Regions from separate parts of the Homo sapiens genome. Here region 1 is linked to region 2. Evidence: fine-mapped expression QTL. A gene starts in region 2. The other region holds a variant in brackets. All regions are shown on one strand. Distances are between the middles of the regions. Region 1 has its middle 12 kb from the start of IFNW1. Region 2 holds the start of HACD4 (3-hydroxyacyl-CoA dehydratase 4).

What was found. PIP is the estimated chance that this variant, and not a neighbour inherited with it, causes the effect.
Region 1: its variant is fine-mapped to the expression of HACD4 in CD4 T cells (BLUEPRINT, PIP 0.95).

Annotation. Positions count from the first base shown.
Region 1 is chr9:21,149,428-21,157,770 of GRCh38, forward strand. No RefSeq gene overlaps it. Among named protein-coding and RNA genes, the nearest start is that of IFNW1, 12 kb to the left of the region's middle. The variant A/C (reference allele first, on the strand shown) is at 3,695.
Region 2 is chr9:21,027,824-21,036,166 of GRCh38, forward strand. HACD4 (3-hydroxyacyl-CoA dehydratase 4) reads right to left here and starts at 3,817. Exons shown (of 7, transcript NM_001010915.5): 1 at 3,730-3,817; 2 at 1,472-1,575. The coding sequence starts at 3,767. It overlaps LOC105375989 (a long non-coding RNA gene), which reads left to right and starts at 3,819. Exons shown (of 3, transcript XR_007061435.1): 1 at 3,819-4,177; 2 at 4,649-4,828; 3 at 5,540-6,096. RefSeq lists a silencer at 3,593-3,952 and an enhancer at 3,596-4,156.

The DNA of each region.
Region 1 (8,343 bases), 120 kb after region 2:
CCCCCATGTATGACACGCTGGAAAAGCAGCAGGGAAAGTCTACAGTGAGTGAGCCCTGGTTGGGGAGGGCTGTGGGTGGGTGCTTGCCAGCAGGGGCCCACTTGCAGTTCTCTGACTATTAGGTAGGGTCTGTTGGTGAAAGAACTAAGGCAGTGCCCACTGGCAAGTGCCTCGGCTTGGCAGCAGAGGCCATGCTGAAAGTGGGTGTAGACAGGCAGTGTCCCTGGGATAGGCTGGCAGAGCGTGGGGTGCTCATATTGGACTGGCCCATCCCATGGGAAAGATAGCCCTGTTCCATTCAGGTCCAGCAGCCAAAAAAGGCTAAAGCCACCTAGAGGAGCATGTGAGCCTTGGGGAATGAGCTGTGCTCCATTGCACCTCTTCCTACACAAACCCTCGGCTCCACGCAGGCTGGAGTTCTGTCTTTTTCAACTCTCCAGGTAGCTATCCCTGCCATCTCAAATGTCTGTGGGGGTTATGGGGTCTCCTGAAGCTAGGGTTCCAGAGGTCTGTGACAAGAATGGCTCACTGTATGCCTATTTTACTCACCCCTTCCCCAGAAGCTGCTCCAAGTCAGGAATGAGTCCTGGAGCTTGGCAACCTCATGCAGGGTTCCCAACTCCCTCCCCTTTCAGCCCTGGGTCTGCATCATCCCTCCGTCCACTCTTCATGCCTTCTTTCCAAAGATCTGTTTAAAATGTGCCAGTCTACTTGATGATCTGGTCTTTCTTGGTGAGAGAAGTTCTTCCTGGCTGTATCTAGTTGGCCATCTTGGTTCTCTCTCTGTCTTTCAGAAGTTTTTCGTGATCCACCAACTTAGGACAATCAAATCCTTCATGACCTAGAACCTAGAGTCTGTGTCTTTTAGAAATGACATCAGAGGAATATTGACTTTGAACTACATTTTAAGGGACGATACCAAGTTCTTCTTATCACCTACACTGCAGTAAACCTTCAAGGCCTCAAACCTTTCATCCACATCTCACAACTCAAAAAAATTCCTTCAGATTCTTGGAACTGCATACCTAATTTCCTGCTGTCCTAATCATTTCTCATTTTTGTTGTACAGGAACGTCCACGCGACCATAATCAGTGCAAGCTTTCACTTAAGCTTATGCTGTAACACAAATCCAGAGCAATTGTTGGGTTTGTGGGCTACTACCAAAAAAAGTCAGAAAACAAATCTACTAATGCCAATGTCTGTGTTCTCAATGAGACTCACACTGACACTTCAAAGGAAGAGTGAAAAGCTAATCATGAAGCTCTGAACATCACTGTTACTTGATTTTTTACACTCAGTAGAAACAGCACTCTAACATTTCCAATTAATAATCTGATCATTACCAAATATAGAAAGCATATTCAAGTGTTGCCTGAACAAAAGTATATTTTGCTTCCAGGTAATGCATGTTTGAGACTTAGGAATTACCCATGTTGGTAAAAATAATTGCTTGTATAATGTCACCAGATTAAATCAAATAAAGTCCTTTTTCAGCAAATGTGGTTATATACCCTTACAGATTGCTATAAATAAACCACCAAAAAAAAGTAAATTTCCATTGGGCTTTGTCAGTAGCTATGAAGATTTACGGGTAAACAAATTTAACTGATCCTTGCTCAAACACAACTAGGTTTTCCTTTTTCCAACCACTGAAGGCTGGGTCTGTGGAGAATCTGCTTATTCCATTCTGCCTCCTCACTAGTTTGAATCATTCTATTTGGCTTGGCTCACTCCTGCCTTTGGATTAACTTTCCCTGAATGTCCCCATAATAGCTCATATGATCAGAGGCCAAAATAGTCAATAACCAGAATTAATTAACTAACCTTCAAATAGACAAAGACAAGCTAGTTTCCCTAGTGGGACTCCTGGGGTCTTGTTCTTGGTGGTAGTTGGGTACTGATTATGTAAAATTGGAAGCTAATCTTTAATTTGGGAAAAATCTTGAATTTTGTAGACAATCAAACCTTCCAGGGTTTCACATGGGTATAAGCCACTCATTGAAGGATAGATAAGAACATATATCTTCAACCAAAACACTTAGTGAAACATCATGTAGCTTTAGATCATTTTGCCCAAGTTGGAGGCTTATGTTTGGTATTGAAAAAAACTGAATACTGTACCTATCTTTCCCCTGAGTTTGTTACTATAGAAAGATTAGAAAGGTGACTAATACTGCTGTTTTCTTAGACTTTGCCACCAAACACATTAAGAAAATTTCGTAAGAGAAAGAAACACATAATGTATTTGTATATGTTTTGAGGTAGGGTCTTGCTCTGCTGTCCACACTGGAGTGCAGTGGCATGATCATAGTACACTGGAGCCTCAAACTCCTGGGCTTGAGGAATCCTCATGCCTCAGCCTCCCAAGTAGCTGGAACTAGATGTGCATGCCACCCTACCTGGCTAACTTTTTTTTTTGTATTTTTTAAACATAGGAATATGATCTCACTTTGTTTCTCAAGCTGATCTTGAACTCTGGGTTTCAAGCAATCCTCCCACCTTGGTCTTCCAAATTGCTGGAATTACAGATAAAAGCCACCACACGCAGCCCACATAAAGTGTTTATGGGAGCAACTAACAGTTGGTTTGCAGGCAGCCTAAATAGGGGATGGCAAGGTTGGGTTTTCCAAGGTTTTCTAATCTTTCTATTTCTTCTAGTGAGTCTTCAGGTTATTATGACTTGTGTTACCAGACTATCAACAAAAGTGGGTACCTCTTTAAATCAGGCCTATTTATGGTGAATTATAGTTCTTAATCACCATCACACCCTTAAGACAGACTATGAACAATTAGACTCAAATACTGCTTAACTGCCTAGATTGCCTGCACTTTGACTTGTTTGATTTGGTTCAGTTTATTTCACAAGGACTTTTGTTAAGGAGTACCCTTTGGGTTTTTGAAATTATCCTCTTGATAGTCATCATAATATTCCCCGTGGTGCACTGTATCCTCTCCAGTCCTAAATGTTTTGTATGCAGCCATCCATTGAGCATTTAATGATCTTTAACTAGATCAGCAAGAACATAAAGAATGTTTCAACTAATGTGTTGTTGAGACTTGTGAATTTCATACTGAGACCAAAGACGTCCATTTAGAATGATAACAGAGAGTGGCAACAACACCCAAAGTTATGGTCAATTTCTCAAAATTGAGAGGCTGACCACAAAGAAAAGTTTATTAAACTAAGTTTAGCCTGAGTGAGCTTCTGTACTCACGTAGTTCTTACGTAATGAATTGTAATGTAACTTAGTACCTAAATAATCTGAAAGCCTAATTTGGAGTATACTTCTGTAATGAATAGCTGAGTCCCAGCCAATCATCACACTTGTGCTTCATTCAATCACAGGTGGCTGCTTATTCAAACCATGTTCAAATAAGGCTAATGCCAAGCTATAACCAATCTAGCTCTTTATATACCTCACTTCTTTTTTTCTGTATATCACTTTCCTTTTTCTGTTGATAAATGTAATCCAATCATGGGGCAGCCTCAAAGTTTCTCTGAACATGTTCTGCTCTGAGAGCTGCCCCATTTGCAAATCAGTTTTTGCTCAATTAAACTCTGCAAAATGTAATTTGTGTAAATTTTTTCTTTTAACTCTGGATATAATTGGGATATAATTACAGAGTTTTTCAGGGTAAGGTGAGAATGCAGAGCGAAATCATGCAATGTTTGCCCACTGAACATAAAATGAC[A/C]AACAACAAAAAAGTAAAATTACATTAGAGAAATAAGCAGCATAAAGAAATAACCAAAGAATTGAAGGGGTCATAATATTTGAAAGGTGTTAAACAATGAGAGAGAGAGAGACAGAGACTGACCCAGGTGAATCCAGAAATATATTTTTTGTTGCGTGCTCCTGAACTGAGCCCCTATAAACAGTGGACAAAGAAAGAAAGGCAAGGATAAAAATATTGTCAAATATTATAACTTTGAGTTTCCCAACTCATCCCTTCTCCCATCTAGCAAGAAGAAATCTAAACATTGGGTTTGTAATGTGAGCAAACATTTGGAAGATTCCTCCTCCATTGAAGCCCCTTCCTGCTAGCTGAGCAATTCACACAAACTTCCTGATTAACTTCTTCAATTACAACATTGCACAAACTTATGCTTCCTAAATTTTACCCAATGGACCACATGCTTTCATTTGGCAATTATTGTATTCTCTGAAATTCCTTCACTTATGTCTTGCTGTATCTTACTACTACTGGACGGGATACAAGTCTGTCAAAATTCAAACAACAATGAGAATTTCTCCTAACTACAAAGTCAAGTGACATGATCTAATAGGAGTGAATTTGTAAATTAGCAAGGTATTTTTTTAAAAAGAATTAATGTAATATCAAACAAGAGGTTTTTCTTTATTTTCCTTGCAGTTCTATACCTAGATGGGCAGGCTGTACTTATTCCTAGTGTAGCTCAATACGTGGAGGGAGGGATGAGTCAGGAGGCCCTGGAAGCCTGAGCAGGCTGGAGGCAAGGGACACATCCTGACCCTTTCTGTCTCCACATAGCTGCCCATTGCCCAAAAAAGAGGACGGGTCCTGCTTGAAGCTGGCATTATTTCCCCTCTGTAAGACACAAAGCTAAGGAAATGAACTTTCAGAATTGAGGTCAGTTCTTTTCAGGAAAGAGCTCATTTTAGCTCTGTAGAAAAATCTTCTGCCAGGGAACAGGATTGTGTGTAGAAGAGAAGGCTGCTCGCCAGACTTGGCTGCTGTTTCTGTCAGTCACGATCAGTAGGTGGCTCTCTTCCTCTGTAAATCTTTTGATAACCCCCAGGGTAAAATGGATCCTGCCCTCTGTTTCCTTTTTGCTGCAACTACTATTACATCATTGTAACAGTAATATTCCCTTAATTCCAAAAATATTTACCAGGAGAGAAAAAGGCCTCTCATACGTGAGTTTCTGAAAAACCAAAAATTTGCACTCAACTATTGCTTTCAATTGGTAATTGTGTACACTTTAGGGGGAAATTGACAGCCAGAAACCACAATGGAAGAGAAAGCAGCTATATGACTGGGCAGTGCAGGTTAATGAGGAGTGAATGTAGAGGGCACACTGAAGATTTCTACACTGGAGAGGGAGGAAACTATTATGATATGGGAATGAAAGAATGGGAAAGAGGGAGGAAAGAAAACTGGCAGGCAACAGAATTAGCAAATGAAATATATGTGTGTGTGTGTGTGTGTGTGTGTGTGTATGCACACAAATGTGTATAGGCATTTATATACACACATATATACACATATCTGTATATATTATGTATTACCTACTATATATTATATGTATTATGTACTATATATTATATACTCTGTAATATATTGTTAAAATATATATTATTATAATATATATTGAAATAAGTTATACATAATATAATAATATATAATATATATACACTTTTAACTTCAGTTTAGGAGACTAATCCATGCACCAGATACTTACAAACCATCAATTTTTGATTAAATATTAATCACATATCTTCAGTGTCAAATGGTATCTAATTTTGAGTCTTCTTCAGAACTCCCATTTCTCTTTTTTCAGACTGTCAGCATTTTGCAGCCGCTTACAGACAGTGGAATAGGAGAGTTGACTATTCTTATATAGATCTGTATGAATCAATAAGAAAATAGTCACCATCTCTTAAGCACTCTGGAAGATACTCTGCTAAGTGCTTTAAAATGTTTTAGTTTTTCTGATACAGAAACTCCAGGAATATTTCCATCTTATTTTACATTTGTGAAAACTGAGGCTCAGAGGGGTTAATTGAATTACCCAGGATCACAGATGTGTCCTGGCTGAATCTAGATTCAATGCAGAATTCTATATTGCGTAAGTAATTACTTAAATTTTATAGTTTGAAATTCTGATACATTTTAATCCCCAAATTATACACTCTTGCTCATTAGCCATCTTTCATTCATGGATGCTGTTGTATATTTAAACTGATTTTCACCCTATATTGCTCTTTAATTTTGATACTGGGGAAGAGAAATATTCTGATCCAGTTTCACTTTTCCATCTTATAAAGGAACTGTCCCAGATTGTTATGTTCATTGTAAATTGATTATTTGTGAATCCCTAAGAGTTAACAGTTTTTATGAAATCATTGTTCTACTTATAGATCAAGTCTTAATTTAGTCAGAAAGAAAGGAAGTGATAGAGAAGAATAATGAGAATAATAAATATTTCTTTTTTGTTTTTTTTTTTCTTTTAGACAGTGACTCACGCTGTTCCCCAGGCTGGATGGAGTGCAGTGGCATACTCATGGCTCACTGCAGCCTCGACCTCCTGGACTCAAGCCATTCTCCTATTTCAGCCTCCCTAGTAGCTGCTACTAAGGACATGTGCCACCATGCCCAGCTAATTTTTTTTTTTCTTTTGTAGAGATGGGTTTTTTTCCATGTTGCCCAGGCTGGTCTCAAACTCCTGGCTCAAGCAATCTGCCTACCTTGGCCTCTCAAAGTGCTGAGATTATAGGTGTGAACCACTGCACTCAGCTGAGGCATGTTTTTAAATAACAGTAAAAACAATGTGATAAAAAGAAACCTAGGTAACCAGATTATTAAAACACATGATTCCTAAAAAATATTATATTATAGTGGTAATTAAATTTAGGAGAAAGAACTTATCTGATATTAAAATGGTAAAAGTGATATTCAATAAAATGGCTCTAGGGTGATCGTGATTACTAACAATCAATGCAAAGTCTCCTGTCAAGTGATAGATGAAAATATGATCTTGATGGAATACAGGACAGACATAAGATTAGATTTTTTGAAAGAGAATTTGTACAGTACAAGTTTTATTAACTATTTATTATGAAGGCTTGAGCTTATCCTACTACCTTAACAATGACATAACTGACAAAAAAATATATGCAGCATAATTTTACAGAAATTGGATGACAGACAGCTCTGGAATGTGACCCTAATGCAAACAAAAAAACAAACAAACAAAAATCTTGTGTTTCACAATTAACCTACTCTCCTCCTGGAGGTTTAGTGAAGAAAAGAAATAGAAGATATAAATAAAAATCAATATTAACTTTTTGAGATGAAAAATGCAGTACTTTAAATGAGATAATTAAGTGTAGAGGTAAAGCTCAGTTACTTTAAAGGCATAGCAGTAGAATCTGTCAAAAAGGAGGCATGGAATGAAATGAACCTCTGATACTTGGAGTACCAGAAGAAGGAAGAGGAGAGTTAATGAAAATATTTGAAGAAATAATATCTGGTGATTTTCTGAATTAGATTAAAACAAAACAAAAAAATTTATGAATTCAAGAAGCTCAATAAATTTCAGGCAGCATAAACATGAATATATATTTAAAACCACAACAAAACACATCATTATAAAATTTCTGAGAACAAGTGATAAAAATCTTAAAAGCAGTTACCAATAAAAAACACATTACATATAAAGAAAGATAAGAATGCTTTCAAACATCTCATTAAATAGCATGCAAGGTAGATGCCAATTAAATGGCATGTTTAAAAGTTGAAAGGAAAAAATAACACCAAACTTGTTAACCTGGAATGTTATATCCAGCAAATATATACTTCAAAAATGAAAGTAAAATTAAGACTTTTTCAGGGAAATGGAAATTGAGAGAATTATCACTACCAGAACTATACTACAAATATTGTTTTAAAATGTTCTTCAAGCAGAGATGAAATTATATCAGATGAAAGCTTGGAGCTACACAAAATAATGTATGAGATTGTTTAATAAAAATAAAAAATTTATTCAGTGATACAAAACACATGTAGCATAATAAATACAGCACAATAGCTCAATGTCTAGGTAGTGTATGATAATTTAAAATATGTGATGAACGCTACAGAAAAACTAAAAACAAAACAGACTAGAAGAATAGCTGATAAAATGATAGTGGAGATGAGGGAATTATTAAAACGGTAAACTAATTTAGGAGAAGGCAAGAAATTAAGAAAGAAAGGAACAAGGACCACAGGAAGAAATAAAATAAGCAAGATGGGAAACATACACCCAAACATATGCATAATTAGATTAAATTTTTATTGTCTAAACTTTCCACTAAAAAAGTAGAGATTGCTATACTGGGAAGACAAAAGCAAAACAAAAACCAAAAACCAAGCAAACAAAAATAAGACTCAAACAAAAAGATCCAACTTTATATATAAAAACACAGGTTACAATTAAAGATGGAAAAATTATACCATGAACACACTACTCATTAGAAAGCAGAAATGACTATATTTTGTTATACATAGTAAAATGGTTACTGTATGTAATGTGTTCTTCTACAGACTTCTTTTGGACACTAATATAGATCATATGCTGGGTTATAAACAAGTTTCTGTAT
Region 2 (8,343 bases):
AGGATAATAACTGAGAAAGAAATGCGCCGAGCCGGGCACAGTGGCTCACGCCTGTAATCCCAGCACTTTGGGAGGCTGAGGCAGGCGGATCACCTTTGGTCAGGAGTTCAATACCAGCCTGGCCAATGTGGTGAAACCCCGTGTCTACTGAAAATACAAAAATTAGCCAGGCATGGTGGCGGGCACCTGTAATCCCAGCTACTCAGGGAACTGAGGCAGGAGAATCACTTGAACCTGGGAGACAGAGGTTGCAGTGAGGTGACATCGTACCATTGCACTCCAGCCTGGGCGACAAGAGGGAAACTCCATCTCAAAAAAAAAAAAAAAAGAAAAAAGAAAAGAAAAAAAAAGAAAGAAAAGAAAAAGAAATACTTGATGACTAAGGCAACTTTTCTCACTGGAAAGGTGAGACAGCATAAGCCAGTCCATGGCTTGTGTTGCCAATGACATGTAATATGCCTGCACTGCCTCAGCAAACCTCAAAGGGCTAGAAGTGATGGCTTTTTAATAAAAATATAAAAGAAGTTTTCCCATCACCTGTGTTTTCCTGTGCTTGAAAACTCTCAACATTTGTAGTTGAAACTCAAGCTTTAGGTTATATCTTTGGAGGTCCTTAACAAAGGCGAGACTATATCTGTAGATTTTCAGTAAGAAAAAGCAACATAAAATAGCTTATGGGACCCTGCAAGTAGAATAACTTCCTTATGATACACACGTCTGAAATGATGAGCACAGCATGACTTTTCCCAGCTACATTCTAAACATTTGTTTTTAGCTGAAGCCAGCAGTTGCTTAGATTGTCAAGTCACTCAACAGTTGTAAACTGTGAGGACACTTACCCACGTGCGGATGGAACATGAAGAGAATGTTATTTTGATAGTCATTTAGTCACCCAACAGTGACTTTACTTTTCAGGAAACTAGAGGAAGTTTATGACTTAAACCATTAATGCTGACTCCTATATAAGTGGTTAGCCCTCTACAAAGTGTGTCATTTACATATTACTTCTTAAAGGGACCAAATAGAGGCTTGGGGAATATAAAATTTGTATTTCACTTACTAGTAGTCTCCAGTTACCTCAAACCTGGGGAATAATACAAACACTGGAAGAATTTGATTCATTCCTGATTTCTCTGCATAAAATGTTATGCTGAGATTTCCTCAAAACACTAGAAATCTGCTAAGGTTTGGTACAGAATGGAAAAGGAACAATGAAATGATACCACCTCAGTGCCATCCATCTCTTTTTTGAGGCAAACTGCCAACTCAGGGGGAAGCCAAATCCCTTTCCCTTACTTATCCCACCTTCCCCCTTCCCCAAGAAGGTTTTGCAATAAACATGGTTGCTAAAAAATACAAATTTTAGAGAAGGATATTAGAAGGTTGAGGTGTGTAGAAATTTAATATAAGCAGGATGAGGTGAAAACAAGGATTAAAAGTTAAAAATAAAAAAACTGTTTCGGAGTTTTACCTTTTCCAAATGAAAAGAATCTGACTGTCATATTTGTAAATATCCAAGAGTGGCCACAGAACTGGATTAAGTAATAGATGAAAAGATACGCATTCTTCCTATACCTATAAATACAGGAAAATACCATTAAACACTTCTTTTATAATCATCCTTTCATCACTGTACACATGCCCTTTAATGTACTGGCCAACCTGAGAAAGCAAAAGAAAACTGTTTCATATCAGTCTTTTATCTGGTTACCCCCAAGTACATATCAGATTTTGAAGGGAGCCATAACCTACACTACCCGCTAAAGTAAATACAGATGCTTCTTCACTTATGATGAAGTTACGTCCTGGTACACCCCATCAGCTGAAAATATCATAAACTGAAAATATCATAAGTTGAAAATGCATGTAATACAACTGATCTACAGAACATCACAGCTTAGCCTAGTCTACCTTAAACTTGCTCAGAACACCTACATTAGCTTACAGTTGGGTGGAATCATCTGGCAACACAGTGCACTGTGGAGTACCGGTTGTTTACCTTCCTGATCATGCGGCCGACTGGGAGCTGCGGCCTGATGCCGCGGCCCAGCATCATGAAAGGATATCATACCTGCACATCGCTAGCCTGGGGAAAGATTAAAATCCAAAATTTGAAGTACGGTTTCTAATGAATACATATCATTTTCACACCATCACAAAGTTTAAAAAATTGTGAGTCATGGACCATCTGTATAGTGAGTTTGCTTAAAACCAAATATAGTGCTTTTTCAAAATCTGCTTTCATCTTTGATAAAGTTCTAACCTTGCTGCTCACCAAGGAATAAAAGAAACCACTGCGAAGGTGGCTTTGAATATTCTTTAAAAAAACAAAACAGGCTGGGCGCGGTGGCTCAGGCATGTAATCCCAGCACTTTGGGAGGCCAAGGCGGGTTGGATCACTTGAGGCCAGAAGTTCAAGACCAGCCTGGCCAACATGGCAACTTACAAAAAAAAAAAAAAAAAAGCCGGATGTGGTAACGTATGCCTGTAATCCCAGCTACCTAGCTGCTCAGGAGGCTGAGGCAGGACAATCACTTGAACCTGGGAGGTAGAGGCTGCAGTGAACCGAGACAGCGCCACTGCACTCCAGCCTGGGCGACAGATCAAAACTCTGTTCTCAAAAATAAATAAAAAATAAAAAACAAAACAACAACAACAACAAAAAATCCATGTGTGCAGAGTGGTTGACATGTCACTATGTGTTCCAGTAGCTCAGCTTGCTAAGTGCAGAACTTGAGACACAGTGTTTTAGTTCTGAAGGGGGGTAGGGATGGGAGTAATCCAAATGTTGGGTAATTCAGTAATTGGACACACCTGACTTTTGAACACATTATGTGATTGAGGTTAGTATTAACATCTTGCCACTGCCTATTAACATTTTGCAAGGGTAGATAGTTTCCTTCATCAGATACATATCGAAAGCAGTTTAGTTGCTCATACCAGAAGAGGGAAGTCAAGCTGGGTTTAACAATGTGTTGTGAGTTGCTGGGGAGATGACTAAGAGAAGATTGACAGATAGATGGTTTGAGGGAGTTAGGAAAAGCACTGTTTGAAATGTTCCCTGGGAGTTCAGAAGAGTGACGGGAGTGGCCCTGCCAGTGTGGTCAAGATTTACTCCTCCTTGAAGATGTGAAACCTCCTAGAAACAAGGAAAATAAGCTGGGAGGCAGAATGATTTTTATTTGGGGACATCCTCCCCTATAAAGGCAGGAACTGCTAAAGGGTTTGGGAAGAGGAAATCCTCCTTCAGCTTGTATCAGAATTACCTGGCTTGTGGGTTAAACATATACACCCCCAGGCCCTACCGCTATATGACTGAATCTGTTCCCCGCCGGAACTAGGCCCTGAAATCTATACGTGTGATAGGTGTTTCCACGGCTGTTACATCTAAAAATCACCCCGCAACTCTGCGTCTGAGAAAGTCAAGAGAAGGCTCCTGGGGGGAGGGAAGTACTGGCAGAGGGCTCACAAGGGCAGGGGTAGCCATGCAGCCTGTCCTTCCCATTCAACTGTAAAATGGAGAAAATAACAGAGCCTGCTTCCTAGGGTGGTCAAGAGGGGTAAGTTAGCAAATACCTGCATGAGCTCCAAGGGGTGCCTGGGCACGGTAGCGCTGCGCCTTGCTGGCGGGCGGGGGGTGCCGCCCGCCCGCCCGCCGCAGAGGGGAGCTCCCGCCTCCAGGCCCTCCACCCGCGCCCCCTCCCCTCGGGATTCGGCCGAGCGCCCTACCTGGGCTGCAGCCAGGCGGGCAGCGCCAAGGGCCCCATGGGCCGCCGCCGCCAGGGCTTCCAGCGCGGTCCAGGAAGGAGTACCGGGGAGGAGGCAGGGGCGGCCCCGCGGCTGGGCGCGGAAGGGCGGGGCCTCTCCACACTCAGCAGTTTACAAAAAGAAAAAGCCCGAGGTCGTGCGTTGGGGAAGAGATGAAAACGAAGTTCTCGAAGTTTCTGCAGCACTGCTAGAGCGCGTCAGGGCGCAAGGCTGGGAGGCGGCTCGCGTTCCCGGTGGGGTTACCAAACTCTGGTTACAGCTTCCTAATCTTTGTGTTGAGACCCCCTTGCAAGCCTTCTGGAAATTAATGCATCTGGGCGATTTCCGGGGCCTCCGAACTCGCTGAAGCCCATCCCCAAACCTCCCGAGATGAGTGGATTCCAGGGTGGGCTCTGCTCAATGCCCACCGGTGAGCCAGGTTCAGACACGAAGCTTGTGCCGGGCGCAGTGGCTAATGCCTATAATCCCAGCACTTTGGGAGGCCGAGGCGGGAGGATCTTTTGAGCCCAGGAGTTCGAGACCAGCCTGGGCAACATAGCGAAAACGCGTCTCTACTAAATGTACAAAAATTAGTCGGGCATGGTGACGCGGGCCTGTGGTCCCAGCTACTCCAGAGGCTGAGGTGGGAGGATCGCTTGAGCCTGGGAGGTCGAGGCTGCAATGAGCCAAGATCACGCGGCTACACTCCAGCCTGGGTAACAGAGCGAGATCCTGTCTCAAAAAATAAATAAAAATAAAACGAAGTTTGTAGCACACCTCCCCAACACTTTTTCAGCTAGGGGCCTGATTCCTCTTCTATCAGGCCTCCCTGCTCTCTAATCTCCCTTGGGTTCTCACTGGTGCCTGCAAATCTTTATTCACGTTGTGTTAATTTCTCTAGCCTATGCCCAGCACTGCTACAACCCCTTCGTGATCTCTCAGGCTTATGACATCACTGTCTCCGTACACAGATGACCCACCCTCCTGCTTTGCTAATAAGATCCAGCCCATCTTCAAGCTCCTCTGCCCAGAAAGGGAAACGTTAAAACAAAAACAGAAACATCTAAGAAGGCACTTGCAAGTAAGTGGGACAATGGCACCTGGTTTTGGAGTTGGAAGTTAGCGCCCCCATTTTTACCAAAAGGGAAGTTGAGGCATTAAAAAAATGTTAAGTCACTTGGCACAGGTCACACAATTGATAAAATGGCAGTATCAGAACTTCAAGGTTGGTGGGATTTCTTGTTTGTTTCCCATTAGGCCGTGGCTTCCTTTTTTCATAGTCCATTCCATTCACTATGCCTACCTCTCACCTCTACATTTCTCTGCACCTTCTCTCATACCCTGCCCTCAGTCGGAGGTTAACCCCAACTTTGTGTTTACCAGTCCCTTCTCAGACTCACTGCATCAGTAGTTAACCATCGCCTCTTCTTGCATCGTCATCCCCTCCTTTCCATTGGCTTTCACTGCACTTTAGGGACATAGACAACTCTCTCTTAGCATATAATTAAACATTGTATTCTTTCTGTTTCTCTCTCAATGGAATCTTCTAATAACTCCCTGCCTGCCTTCTCTGATCAGGTGCTTCTTTCATTTCCTACCATCTTCCTGTTCCATAATACCTTACAGTTTGACTCTCCTGACACTGCTCCGTCCGCGAGCATGTTAATTTTTCGCCGAATCCCTATCCTGTATCACCTTGCAGGATGATGCCCCACGGTCCTTGCTTTTACAGAACATTTGATCTAAAGGGTAAACTGGTGGCTAACCCATTATCAATGCTATCTCTGATCAGGTTAAGCAGCAAGAGAGAAAGTAAAGTCCCAGATGGCCTGCAGTGGGGCAGGAGGGAGAAGGTGGAAAGCCTGCCCAGAAGAATTGATCCTTTGTCACCAAACACAGCCCCTGCATCCACATCCTCATTGACAGGTCTGCTGCATTTTACCAGTTCTGTCTGTCTGCCATTTACCCCTGAAGTTCTACATATTCTACGTCTCTTGCCTTATGTCCCTTCTGTCTCTCTGGATGGGTCTTCTTCTCCTGCTGTATTTCCTCAAAAGTCTGCCCTTAGTCACCATCCATTTGTCACCATGTTATCCCTCAGCATAGACAACCACACATGGCTTTATCTCCATGTGGACAACTTTTGACTATTATTTTCAGCCCTTTCTTCTTTTATGAATACTATCTCTGGCCTTTGAGCAGCTTTTGGATATTTCCTCATGAAAGTCCTATTGTTTGGACTATCTTTGGAACGTCTTCCAATTCAACCTATTTAAAATAAGCATACTATCTCTCTTCCTAAATCATTATTTCCCACAGAAAGACCACCATTTTTCTAGCCACTTGATTTTAAATTGGGGAGTCATCATTAAGCACCCCATCCAATCAAATTCGATTGATCCCATCCTTTCCAGATCTCCTACTAATCAGTAGTGTTCTTTGTCCATTCCTTATTTTCCAGTACCTGGGTGAGGAGTAATTGGCCTCCCTCACATCCATTCTTTACATCATAACTCAGTTGACTTTCTGGAGCGTCTTGGGTTATATCTTTCTGCTGCACAAAAAGAGGCCCTTTTTAGTTGCCAAAAAAGAACAAGCCAATCAGTCGAAAAATAAAAAATCCTTTCAAATCAAGCAGTTAGCTGATTCTACGTTATTTCCCAAGGAAAGAGTACAAAAAGAGCTTAGGAGAGAACATTTTGTATGAAAAGTGAAATTCTCCCTTTCCCCTGGTCAGTTCCCAGTCCTGCCCACGTCCTGCCAGCATTATCAAGATGGCCTCCCCCAGCCTCCCTGCCTCCAATCTCTTTCCTCCTTCTACCCAGACTGCCATAGATTATTTAAGGATGGCAAAAATATTTCTTAAAACACAGTTCTGATGTAGCCATTCTCCTGGTCTAAATCTTTTGCTGACTCCCCGTTGCCTGCTACAGTATATCTCTTCTTGCCCCTAAACCTGTCACATGCTGACATCTCCTACCATCCTATCCCCTTACCAAAAATCACAGCAACCTGCTGTTCCATGACCACACCAGGCATTCTCTGGCCAATGTGCCTCTGTGAAAAATTTCCCGTCTACTTTTTCTATTCTACCTCCTCCCCTTATCACAGCCCAGTACTTACCTGTCAAAATTCTATTCATTCTTTAAAAGCCTTCCCAAAGATCCCCTCTGGGAGTCACATAGGCTAACGTATGTCTATGTTGGTATTTATCTTAGGGTATTGTTGTTGTCAAGGTACTTGACTATTTAACTAGATTATAGATTCTCAGAGGCTTCTCTCTCACTAACAGTGAGAATTTGACAACTTTTAACCTTTAAAAATGAAGTTTCTTTTGCCAAAAGCACACAGTTATTAGAAAGATCAAATAATAAAATTTATAGATGAAAATGGATAAAAGCCCCTAGTACAGTGCTTGGCATAGTAAGTATCCATAAATATGTTGGATGAATGAATTAAATCTAGTATGAGTTTTCTATTCCCAAAATTTTAACCCAAAACAAAACATTCAGTGATAGTTACATTACTGAAGTATGTATATTCAACTTTCAGTTATCCACTGGTACAGAAGAAGTCAGAGTCCAAGATAACAACTGAATTAATATATTCTAATCTTTAGAAGAAATTTTAAAATTATTCGAACATGTCAATTTTGTTTTCCTTGGGCAAATGCTTCAATTTGTTTTCATCCCAAAGAGCACCATCTGGGAGGCTAAAACCTTGAAATATATTTCATGGCAGTAACAGACTGGCTACAAAATAAATTCTTTTTTATTTTCAGCACCTTGAGTTTTCAGAGGTCACTCCTCTCCCTCAAAGAAAACACAGAATAAAACTCTTTGTGACCTTGGGTTAGGTAGAGATTTCTTAGGTATTTCATCTAAGAAGCCCTCTTAGATAGCTAAGCAAGCATTTCTTAGCTACTTCTGGCCTTCAAAAGACACTTTCAAGTGAGTGAAAAGAAGCTATATAGTAGAAGAAAATATTTAAAAATCGCATAACTAATAAAGAACTTGTTTGCAAATATATACAGAACTCTCAAAACTCAATAATTGGAAGACAATAAACCCCCCCAAAATAGGCAAAAGATTTGAAAACACACATAACCAAGTAAGAGACAAAGAAAGAACATAAAAGTATGGTCAAAATAATTAGTAATTATGGAAATGAAAATAAAACCACAATGAGATATCGCTACACACTGATAAAGATGGCTAAGATGAAAAAGAGTTAACCACCACAAGTGTTAGTGAAGATGTGCCACAATGGGGATTCTCATAAGCAGCTTTATTTTTAATAGCCAAAAACTGAAAACAACCCAAATTTCCATAAACAGATGAATGGATAAATAAATTATGGCATAACTGTACAATGAAATCCAACTCAGCAGTAAAAAGAAGTGAACTACTGATACAAGCAATAACATGGATGAAATTCAAAATAATCAAACTGAATGTCAGAAGCCAGAAAAAAAAAGAATAGATACTGTATGATTCTACTTATTTAAGGCTCTAGAAAGTGGAAACTAATCATCACTGATAGAAGGAAAATAAGTGGCTGTCTGAGGATAGATAGTGAAGAGGAATGAAAAAAGGG